Homo sapiens: one gene and its partners. The protein of the gene in region 3 interacts with the protein of the main gene of each other region in a pairwise test. Each region holds a gene or a part of one and is shown on either strand. Other genes may lie near its edges. The genes, in order: LATS2, TERT and GRM1.

Region 1 (3,648 bases), on a different chromosome or scaffold from region 3:
CCTGCAGAAGCCGGGCCTGGAGGCGCCGCCGCGCGCGCACGTGGCCTTCCGGCCTGACTGCCCAGTGCCCAGCAGGACCAACTCCTTCAACAGCCACCAGCCGCGGCCCGGTCCGCCTGGCAAGGCCGAGCCCTCCCTGCCCGCCCCCAACACCGTGACGGCTGTCACGGCCGCGCACATCTTGCACCCGGTGAAGAGCGTGCGTGTGCTGAGGCCGGAGCCGCAGACGGCTGTGGGGCCCTCGCACCCCGCCTGGGTGCCCGCGCCTGCCCCGGCCCCCGCCCCCGCCCCCGCCCCGGCTGCGGAGGGCTTGGACGCCAAGGAGGAGCATGCCCTGGCGCTGGGCGGCGCAGGCGCCTTCCCGCTGGACGTGGAGTACGGAGGCCCAGACCGGAGGTGCCCGCCTCCGCCCTACCCGAAGCACCTGCTGCTGCGCAGCAAGTCGGAGCAGTACGACCTGGACAGCCTGTGCGCAGGCATGGAGCAGAGCCTCCGTGCGGGCCCCAACGAGCCCGAGGGCGGCGACAAGAGCCGCAAAAGCGCCAAGGGGGACAAAGGCGGAAAGGATAAAAAGCAGATTCAGACCTCTCCCGTTCCCGTCCGCAAAAACAGCAGAGACGAAGAGAAGAGAGAGTCACGCATCAAGAGCTACTCGCCATACGCCTTTAAGTTCTTCATGGAGCAGCACGTGGAGAATGTCATCAAAACCTACCAGCAGAAGGTTAACCGGAGGCTGCAGCTGGAGCAAGAAATGGCCAAAGTAATTTCACACTTCATTTTTACTATTTGTTCCCGGCTCATCCCTCTACTGGCAATAGGAAGCACGCACAATCCCTTTTCTGTTTCGACTGTATACCCCTTATCATCAAAACGGCTAATGGGCGACAGTCTGGTTCTGGGGCCAACAACTTGGAGAAGTTGCAAATGGTGTGACCTCCCTTTCGCCTTTCCCCTTGACTCTTCTGAAGAATCAGAGATAGCTGTGCATAATGTAGCCAGCGTAATGTAGGTAATCTACAATTTACATTGTAGGTAAATTAGCAAATTAAGTTTTAGGGTATGTCCTCGCTTAACAAAATTCATCATGGATTAATAATAGAACATTTGAATGAGTAGAAACAAAGTTTAAGGTTTTGTAAATTGAGATTGTGGGATTTTGGAAGAAAAATGTATCTAGTAGTGATTCCATTTATTCTTTTAAGTGTTTAGTTAGTAACTAATGATTTAAATATACCTTAGTTGACACTGAAGTGCTGAAGAAGGTAATTATTGATGAAACTATTTAAATTAAAATGTAACAGATTTAAATCACACAAAGCCAATAATTCCAAAGCCTGAAAACCAGATTTGTGTTCTTTTCAGTGTCCCGTATTCACTGATTTTTTTACAGATATACTTTTCATTTGTGTTTTTTTTATTTTTATTTTTTATTTTTTAATTTATTTTTAGACGGAGTCTTGCTCTGTCACCCAGGCTGGAGCGCAATGGCGCGATCTTGGCTCGCTGCAACCTCTGCCTCCTGGGTTCAAGCGATTCTCCTGCCTCAGCTTCCCGAGTAGTTGGGGTTACAGGTGCCTACCACCACGCCTGGCCATTTTTTTGTGTTTTTAGTAGAGACGGGGGTTTCGCCATGTTGGTCAGACTGGTCTCGAACTCTTGACCTCAGGTGATCTGCCCACCTCGGCCTCCCCAAGTGCTGGAATTACACGTGTGAGCCACCACACCCAGCCGTTTATTTTTTATTTATACATAGTATTTGTAGATTTGTGGGGAACATGTGATATTTTGTTACATGCATAGGATATGTAATGATCAAGTCAAGGTATTTAGAGTATCCATTGCCTGGTGTATTTATCATTTCTGTGTTGGAAGCATTTCAAGACCTCTCTTCTAGCTATTTTGAAATATTGAATACATTTTTACTAACCATAGTCATACTAGTTAGAGTTTGTTCCTTCTATCCAGCTGTATGTTTGCACCAATTAACTTCTCATCTCCCCTCAACACACACACACCCTTTCCCACCTCTGGTAACTATCATTCTACTCTCTACCTCTATGAGATCAATTATTTTAGCTCCCACATATCAGTAACAGTGTGTGGTGTTCTAACCGAACTTCTGTTCCTGGCTTATTTCACTTAACATAATGACCTCCAGTTCCATTCATGTTGCTCCAAATGACAGGATTTCATTCTTTTTTATGGCTGAATAGTATCCCATGGTGTACACAGACCACATTTTCTTTATCTGTTCATCAGTTGATGGACACTTCAGTTGATTCCATGTTTTTACTGTTGTGAATAGTGCTGCAATAAACATGGGGTGCAGGTATCCCTTTGATATACTGATTTCCTTTCCTTTAGATAAATACCCAATAATGGGTTTGGTAGATTGTATGGTAGTTCTATTTTTAGTTTCTTTTTTTTCCTTTTTGATAATAGTCGTTCTAACTGGGGAGAGATTATATCTCATTGTGGTTTTCATTTGCATTTCCCTGATGGTTAATGAGCATCTTTCCATGCACCTCTTAGCCATTTGTGTATCTTCTTTTGACAAGTGTCTATTCAGGTCATTAGCTCACTTTTTTTTCTTTTTGAGACAGAGTTTCGCTCTTGTTGCCCAGGCTGGAGTGCAATGGCACGATCTCAGCTCACCACAACCTCCGCCTCCCGGGTTCAAGTGATTCTCCTGCCTCAGCCTACCGAGCAGCTGGGATTACAGGCATGCACCACCACGCCCAGCTAGTTTTATGTTTTTGTAGAGACAGGGTTTCACCATGTTGTTCAGGCTGGTCTCAAACTTCCGACCTCAGATGATCCACCTGTCTCAGCCTCCCAGGGTGCTGGGATTACAGGTGTGAGCCACCGCGCCTGGCCTTATTTTATTTATTTATTTTTTAATTAAGACGGAGTCTTGCTCTATTGCCCAGGCTGGAGTGCAGTGGTGAAATCTCGGCTCACTGCAACCTCTGCCTTCTGGATTCAAGCTATTCTCCTGCCTCAGCCTCCTGAGAGCTGGGACTACAGGTGTGCGACACCATGCTCAGCTAATTTTTGTATGTTTAGTAGAGACGGGGTTTCACCATGTTAGTCAGGCTGGTCTCAAACTCCTGACCTCAAGTAATCCGCCTGCCTCAGCCTCCCAAAGTGCTGGGATTACAGGCGTGAGCCACCATATCTGGCCTTTTGGCTTACTTTTTAATGGGATTATTTGATATTTTTTTTGCTGTTGAGTTGAGTTCCTTGTATATTCTGAATAATAGTCTTTTGTCAGATGAATAGTTTGTGAATATTTTCTCCTGTTCAACACAGGTATCCTCTTTACTCTGTTGTTTCCTTTGCTCTGCAGAAGCTTTTTAGCTTAATATAGTCCCATTTGTCTACTTTGGGGTTTTTTTGCCTGTGCTTTTGAGATTTTAGCCATAAAAATCTTTGCTCAAACCAATGTCCTGGAGTATATTTTCATAGCCTCTGGTCTTATTTCTAGGTCTTTAATCTGTTTTAAGTTGACATTCCTATATGGTGAGAGATTGGGGTCTAGTTTCATTCTTCTGCATATGGATATCTAGTTTTCCCAGCATGTCTCTTTTTCAGTGTACATTCTTGGCACCGTTGTCAAAAATCAGGTGGCTGTAAATACGTGGACTT
Region 2 (3,648 bases), on a different chromosome or scaffold from region 3:
TGGAGGCAGAGCCCAGCCTAAGCAATGAGCGGCAGGTGCCCAGAATAAGGTGACAAGCGTTGCCACCCACCCAAGGGGGCCAAGCAGAGGGGCAGCTTGGGAGAAAACAGGACAAGTGAGGGGGCTGGGGTGACTTGCTTTCCTTCAGGGCACAGAGAACCCTTTCTGGGATGTCTCCAGCAACACGTGGCAGCAGACACAGGCAGCCCAGAGTCCAGCCTCGGCATGAGACAAGCTGGGAGAGGAGTATTGGCAGCATGCATGTGGCGGGCACGTGGTGAGCAAGCCAGGCCCAACAGAGGCAAGCGGACCTGAAGCTGTGGCTGCAGTGCCTGGCACGCGGGAGGCGAGAGCCTGCAGTCCCGTGTCCCCGTAGCAAAATGGAACGGAGAGGTGACCAAGAAGAGCCGAGCATCAGAAAAGATAGGCTTGGGGACCAGCACTGCGCCTGCACCATCTACCCAGGCAATGGGCAACCGGCGCAGCTGTGGCTATAGAAAGAGCAAACATTCAGGAGCAAGCTCAAGTGAGCAAACGCCAAGGACACCTGGGGACAGAGCCTCACTCACCCTACACGAGACAGGGACACCCAGGGACAGCGCCTCACTCACCCTGCACCTGAGAGGGACACCCGGGGGCCGCAACTCACTCACCCTACACGTGACAGGGACACCCGGGGACGGCGCCTCACTCACCCTACACGTGACAGGGACACCCGGGGATGGCGCCTCACTCACCCTACACCTGAGAGGGACACCCAGGGACGGCGCCTCACTCACCCTACACGTGACAGAGACACCCGGGGACAGTGCCTCACTCACCCTACACGTGACAGGGACACCCGGGGACGGGGCCTCACTCACCCTGCACGTGACAGGGACACCCGGGGACGGCGCCTCACTCACCCTACACGTGACAGGGACACCCGGGGACGGCGCCTCACTCACCCTACACGTGACAGGGACACCCGGGGACGGCGCCTCACTCACCCTACACGTGACAGGGACACCCGGGGACGGCGCCTCACTCACCCTACACGTGACAGGGACACCCGGGGACGGCGCCTCACTCACCCTGCACGTGACAGGGACACGCGGGGACGGCGCCTCACTCACCCTGCACGTGACAGGGACACCCGGGGGCCTCGCGTCAATCACCCTGCACGTGACAGGGACACCCGGGGACGGCGCCTCACTCACCCTGCACGTGACAGGGACACCCGGGGACAGTGCCTCATTCACCCTACACGTGACAGGGACACCCGGGGACCGCGCCTCACTCACCCTGAACGTGACAGGGACACCCGGGGACAGTGCCTCACTCACCCTGCAAGTGACAGGGACACCCGGGGGCCGCGCCTCACTCACCCTGCACGTGACAGGGACACCCGGGGGCCGTGCCTCACTCACCCTGCACGTGACAGGGACACCCGGGGGCCGCGCCTCACTCACCCTGCACGTGACAGGGACACCCGGGGGCCGCGCCTCACTCACCCTGCACGTGACAGGGACACCCGGGGGCCGCGCCTCACTCACCCTACACGTGACAGGGACACCCGGGGGCCGCGCCTCACTCACCCTGCACGTGACAGGGACACCCGGGGGCCGCGCCTCACTCACCCTACACGTGACAGGGACACCCGGGGACAGTGCCTCACTCACCCTACACGTGACAGTGACACCCGGGGACCGCGCCTCACTCACCCTACACGTGACAGGGACACCCGGGGGCCGTGCCTCACTCACCCTGAACGTGACAGGGACACCCGGGGACGGCGCCTCACTCACCCTACACGTGACAGGGACACCCGGGGACGGCACCTCACTCACCCTACACGTGACAGGGACACCCGGGGACGGCGCCTCACTCACCCTGCACGTGACAGGGACACGCGGGGACGGCGCCTCACTCACCCTGCACGTGACAGGGACACCCGGGGGCCTCGCGTCAATCACCCTGCACGTGACAGGGACACCCGGGGACAGCGCCTCACTCACCCTGCACGTGACAGGGACACCCGGGGACGGTGCCTCACTCACCCTACACGTGACAGGGACACCCGGGGACCGCGCCTCACTCACCCTGAACGTGACAGGGACACCCGGGGACAGTGCCTCACTCACCCTACACGGGACAGGGACACCCGGGGACCGTGCCTCACTCACCCTGCACGTGACAGGGACACCCGGGGACCGCGCCTCACTCACCCTGCACGTGACAGGGACACCCGGGGACCGCGCCTCACTCACCCTGCACGTGACAGGGACACCCGGGGACCGCGCCTCACTCACCCTGCACGTGACAGGGACACCCGGGGGCCGCGCCTCACTCACCCTGCACGTGACAGGGACACCCGGGGGCCGCGCCTCACTCACCCTGCACGTGACAGGGACACCCGGGGGCCGTGCCTCACTCACCCTGCACGTGACAGGGACACCCGGGGACGGCGCCTCACTCACCCTGCACGGGACAGGGACACCTGGGGACCGCGCCTCACTCACCCTGCACGGGACAGGGACACCCGGGGACAGTGCCTCACTCACCCTACACGTGACAGGGACACCTGGGGACCGCGCCTCACTCACCCTGCACGTGACAGGGACACCCGGGGACAGTGCCTCACTCACCCTATACCTGGGAGGGACACCCAGGGACGGTGCCTCACTCACCCTACACGTGACAGGGACACCTGGGGCCGCGCCTCACTCACCCTACACCTGAGAGGGACACCCGGGGACAGCGCCTCACTCACCCTACACCTGGGAGGGACACCCAGGGACGGTGCCTCACTCACCCTACACGTGACAGGGACACCCGGGGACCGCGCCTCACTCACCCTGCACGTGACAGGGACACCCGGGGACAGCGCCTCACTCACCCTGCACGGGACAGGGACACCCGGGGACCACGCCTCACTCACCCTACACGTGACAGGGACACCCGGGGACGGCGCCTCACTCACCCTACACCTGAGAGGGACACCCGGGGACAGTGCCTCACTCACCCTACACGTGACAGGGACACCCGGGGACCGCGCCTCACTCACCCTGCACGTGACAGGGACACCCGGGGACAGTGCCTCACTCACCCTGCACGGGACAGGGACACCCGGGGGCCACACCTCAATCACGCTGCACGGGACAGGGACACCCGGGGGCCGCGCCTCACTCACCCTACACGTGACAGGGACACCTGGGGGCAACGCCTCACTCACCCTGCACGTGACAGGGACACCCGGGGACCACGCCTCACTCCCTGCATAAGCCAGGGGCAGATTGTGACCTCATCTGAAGTCAGAGAACAGCAATGACAGGCAGAGTCCTGATCAGAGAACTCAAACTCTCCTCAACGAAGGAAGCTGGAGCACAAAAAGCAAAACTGGGTTGCATGACGCTTATCTGACTCGGCGTGGTCCACCTGAGCCGCAGCAGGTGTGAGGCAGCTGCCGTTCGATGGGTAGGGACTTCCAGTCACGCAAGACGCAGCATTTCAAGCAACCTGCTGTAAACACCGCCGAGTTAGCAATTCTGCACTGTACACAGAAAACGGTGTTAGGAGTGCCAATCTCATGTTATATGACTTTTGCCACCATAAAAAGAAAAAAAGAAAAAAAAGAGCCCCAAGAAGGTCACCCTCCTTGTCTGCATG
Region 3 (3,648 bases):
TCCTCTTCCAGTTCGTCTTCTTCCGTGTTCCCTTCCCGCTCGTGCTCATACACGTACTCCTGGAGGAGCTTAAACCTCTCGCTGTCGTCGTCGTCGTCCGCGGGCGGGGAGACCAGCTCCTCCCCAAAGGTGCTCAGCTGCAGCGGCAGCATCTGCAGGTGCTGCGGAGGTGGCGGGGGCGGGTACAGGGACCGCAGCCCGTTCCCGGGACCACCGGGGCCTGCCAGCACCGCGTGAAAATCCGGGATCGCGGTACTGAAGTTGCTGACCACTCCCTGGAGCTGGTCCATCAGCGATTTCTGCTGTGGAGGGGGTTGCTGCTGCTGCTGGAGAGGAGGGGGCAAGCCCTTGGGGAGGGCTGGTTCGGCCAGGAAGAGGGGGGTCTCCTCTGCGGTCAGGTGGGACGGCAGAGGCGGAGTGGTCGCCGCGCTTGGCACGCGCCTGTGCACCACCATGGAAGGGCTACCAGGCGGGCTAAAGCGAATCGGCTGGGCATCCTCCTCCTCCTCTACGTTGTAAAGGGTCTTGGTGCTGGTATCTGAAAAGGTCAGGCTCTTGCCAGAGCCTTGGTAACTTTTAGTGAGGGGCTTGATGACGGCTGTTTGGTTGCAGGCCGTCTCATTGGTCTTCACGTGCACAGAGAGGCGGTGCCACATATGCTGTCCCTTGGGCACCTGTCCTCCACCTGGTTCAGACCATGACACAGACTTGCCATTAGAACTATGAATAAAATAGAGATGGATTTATTTGCAGATAGATCATGCACACAGGATAAAATACATAGAAAACATATGCAAACCTAGCTCAGTGTGATTTAACTGCTGTCTCTGCTGTAGGCCTTTGCTCCAGCACCCCATACCTCCTCTTACAAAAAGAACACCAAAAGCTGAAGGAAATATTGACCCTGAGAAAAGTTGTTGAGGAGAAAAGCCAGTCTGTTGTAGAAATAGCTATTTTCATTTAGGTCTAAGATTTCACAAACCTCTCTTTTTTCTCCGTTGCACTCTCTCCCTCTCCCTCTGTCTCTCTCTGACACACACACACACACACACACACACACACACACTTTTGAAAAACTCCCAACTGATGGAGGAAAACTTTAAAAAAAAAATCTTAGTTACACATGGACAACCAAAATAATGGCTATTGTCCTTGGGACAAATTAGGACCCACATACAAAGCTACTCTCGTTGTGTTGTGGGATTATAAAATAGATCCTCTCAGTTGCCCATTCTCATATGCAAGTATTTCCCATGACCAGGGTGGCGTGATCACACAGGGTACCTATAAGGAACATAAAAAAGCAGATGACAGAAAAACTCAGACTCATGGTCAATTTATGAGCTTCATAGCTTTTGATTTTTTTAAAACATTTCAATGCATTATTTCTCACACATACAGTGGATCACAATTCACACAAAGGCCCTGACTCACAGAAGCTGGTTTGGGATTTTCACTCTAGGAACATTGAAATAGCTGTATTTGAAAAGCAATAGAATGAGGAAGCCAGGAAAAATACAAATGCCCACATCCTGCTTTAGGATAGTTTGATGCAAATAAGAGAAAATTATGATTGAGACAAAGCAGCAGTTACTGAGACGAAAACCTCTACTCATTGAGCCTTGGTGAAGAAGAGTCTTAGGGTGCCAGGAGCATCCCAGCCTTATCAACTCCCATCTTCATGGCACCCACAGAAAAGCAGCCATATGGAATTTCTCCCTGAATAAGAAAATAAGAAGATGTACTGTGGCCTACACCCCAAATTCTGTTCTGTCTATTGTAATAACTCTGATCTCACTTCTGGACTCAGCTTCTTTTCTGTATAACTTTAAGCAGATGTTGGTACCTTACCATAGCCTTCTACTAATAACAACGGTGGAATCCTTAAATCAGGAAATAATTGTTTCTTTTCTTTTTTTAGAAGTTTGCTTTTTCTCTGTACTCAGTAAAATGACAGAGAAAGTAGCATAATAGTAACACATTTATGACATTAAAAGGAATATAAAAATGGACATTTTTTTCTTTAAGTGGAGGTGTGAAATAGACTAATCCATATTCTAGTTTTTGTTTGGAAAAAATGTAGGAAATGATCAGTAGTTTAAATAATGGTTTATTTCATCATCTTGAGAATACAAGAACGAATACTTCAAAAATTATATGTGAGCATCATTTATGATGAAGGTAATATTTTGACATTTCATATTTTATAATCTTGAAAAGTAAAGTGAGCCAGATAAGTACAGATGAGTGTAAATGTCTGATATTGATTATAGAAAATTCTGGATATAAAGGCTCTAAAATAGATAAAACAGTTAAAGTTTTGACCTGATTATTTGAGAAATAGGTAGTTCCTCCATATATCTGATACCCTACACTGCATTTTTAATTGTCTAAGACAAAGCTCATCTCTGTTATGTCAAAGTTAATATTTCTTTCAAATATATGCCTTACACATTATCTGAGACTGTGGAAGTGCTTGTAAAGTTTTTAAAAATTGTCTTATTGACTTCCACACTATCTTGTTGGAATAGCTGACTCTTTTCTGAGGTAAACAAACTAAAGAACAGGTCAGTGGTGTCCCTGGCAAGAACAGGTAGTCAACCAGCTAGCCAGAATCACCACCAGAATCCACAGTTGCTCTTCTGAGCTTAAAACTGTAGGTAAACTCATCTTCCACTTAATCTTTTTCAACTGCCCCATCATCTACCACTATACACACTTTGTTTTTTTTATGCATTCAATATGCCTCTTCTAGAAAGGCAAATATAAAACTTATTTGCCTCTTACCCTCCTTAAGTATGCCTTACTATATATAGCATCCAACTCAATAATTTGCATCATTTTAAATTGCAATGAAAAAAATGTTTCCTTCCCCATCTTCCCACTTCTTCATAGGCATTAGGAAATGCCTTTTTAATGTTCACCAGGAAAATGCTTAAACAAAATGTTATCCTGTATCTATTTAGTTGTGTGTGTGTGTGTGTTAAAACAACAACAACAACAACAACAAACAGGTCCCTTGAGAAATAATCTGCCTCTAATTCAACCAGCAGGCTTAGCTGTTCCAATGACACATTGCCTTAGTTTCTACACATAATAGCAAAAAGGTACCTTGTTTCCTGAAAGCCCTAATGTGATCCACTTCACCCACTCATTCACATGGGCTGTTTTCCTCATTGTCCACAGGTTCTATGTGGGCCTCTTTTTAAATCAAAAGCACCCATAAGTTAACAGTATTATTAATCATGTTGCAGACAGATATAATCAGAATTTAGTTCTGTTTTAATTAAATCCAATTTTTATTGTTGAGATGGGACATTTTCACTATGGCCTTCAAAACTGGTAACTTTCGTTCCCCTCAGTCTTGCTCTAGATTTGCTGTAAAGTACTTTTAATTAGGAAACAGATCTCACACCTCAGGGCATTTATCAGATTAAGAAAATTAGTGTAATCTTTTTTCAAGGATAAAATAAACTGCTTTTTAAAAATCAAACATAGTAGAAGGAATGTATCATCTCACAGACATTGCAGCACTGAGTACAAACTTTAGTTCTTCAAGATGAGTCATTTCTTACCTGTGGTCCATAGATAATCTGAAAGGTCCATGCATCTATACCTGCATTAAGCATTGTTTTTAAACTGAATAAA

What was found.
Region 1: the proteins of GRM1 (region 3) and LATS2 come close enough for resonance energy transfer, tested with the Homo sapiens proteins (one large-scale study listed by BioGRID).
Region 2: the proteins of GRM1 (region 3) and TERT come close enough for resonance energy transfer, tested with the Homo sapiens proteins (one large-scale study listed by BioGRID).

Annotation. Positions count from the first base shown.
Region 1 is NC_000013.11:20,984,993-20,988,640, reverse strand, and holds part of LATS2 (serine/threonine-protein kinase LATS2), read left to right. Parts: coding exon 1-760; intron 761-3,648. UniProt on the Homo sapiens protein: Negative regulator of YAP1 in the Hippo signaling pathway that plays a pivotal role in organ size control and tumor suppression by restricting proliferation and promoting apoptosis.
Region 2 is NC_000005.10:1,288,529-1,292,176, forward strand, and holds part of TERT (telomerase reverse transcriptase), read right to left. Parts: intron 1-3,648. UniProt on the Homo sapiens protein: Telomerase is a ribonucleoprotein enzyme essential for the replication of chromosome termini in most eukaryotes. Active in progenitor and cancer cells. Inactive, or very low activity, in normal somatic cells.
Region 3 is NC_000006.12:146,430,944-146,434,591, reverse strand, and holds part of GRM1 (metabotropic glutamate receptor 1 isoform alpha precursor), read right to left. Parts: intron 721-3,648; coding exon 1-720. UniProt on the Homo sapiens protein: G-protein coupled receptor for glutamate. Ligand binding causes a conformation change that triggers signaling via guanine nucleotide-binding proteins (G proteins) and modulates the activity of down-stream effectors.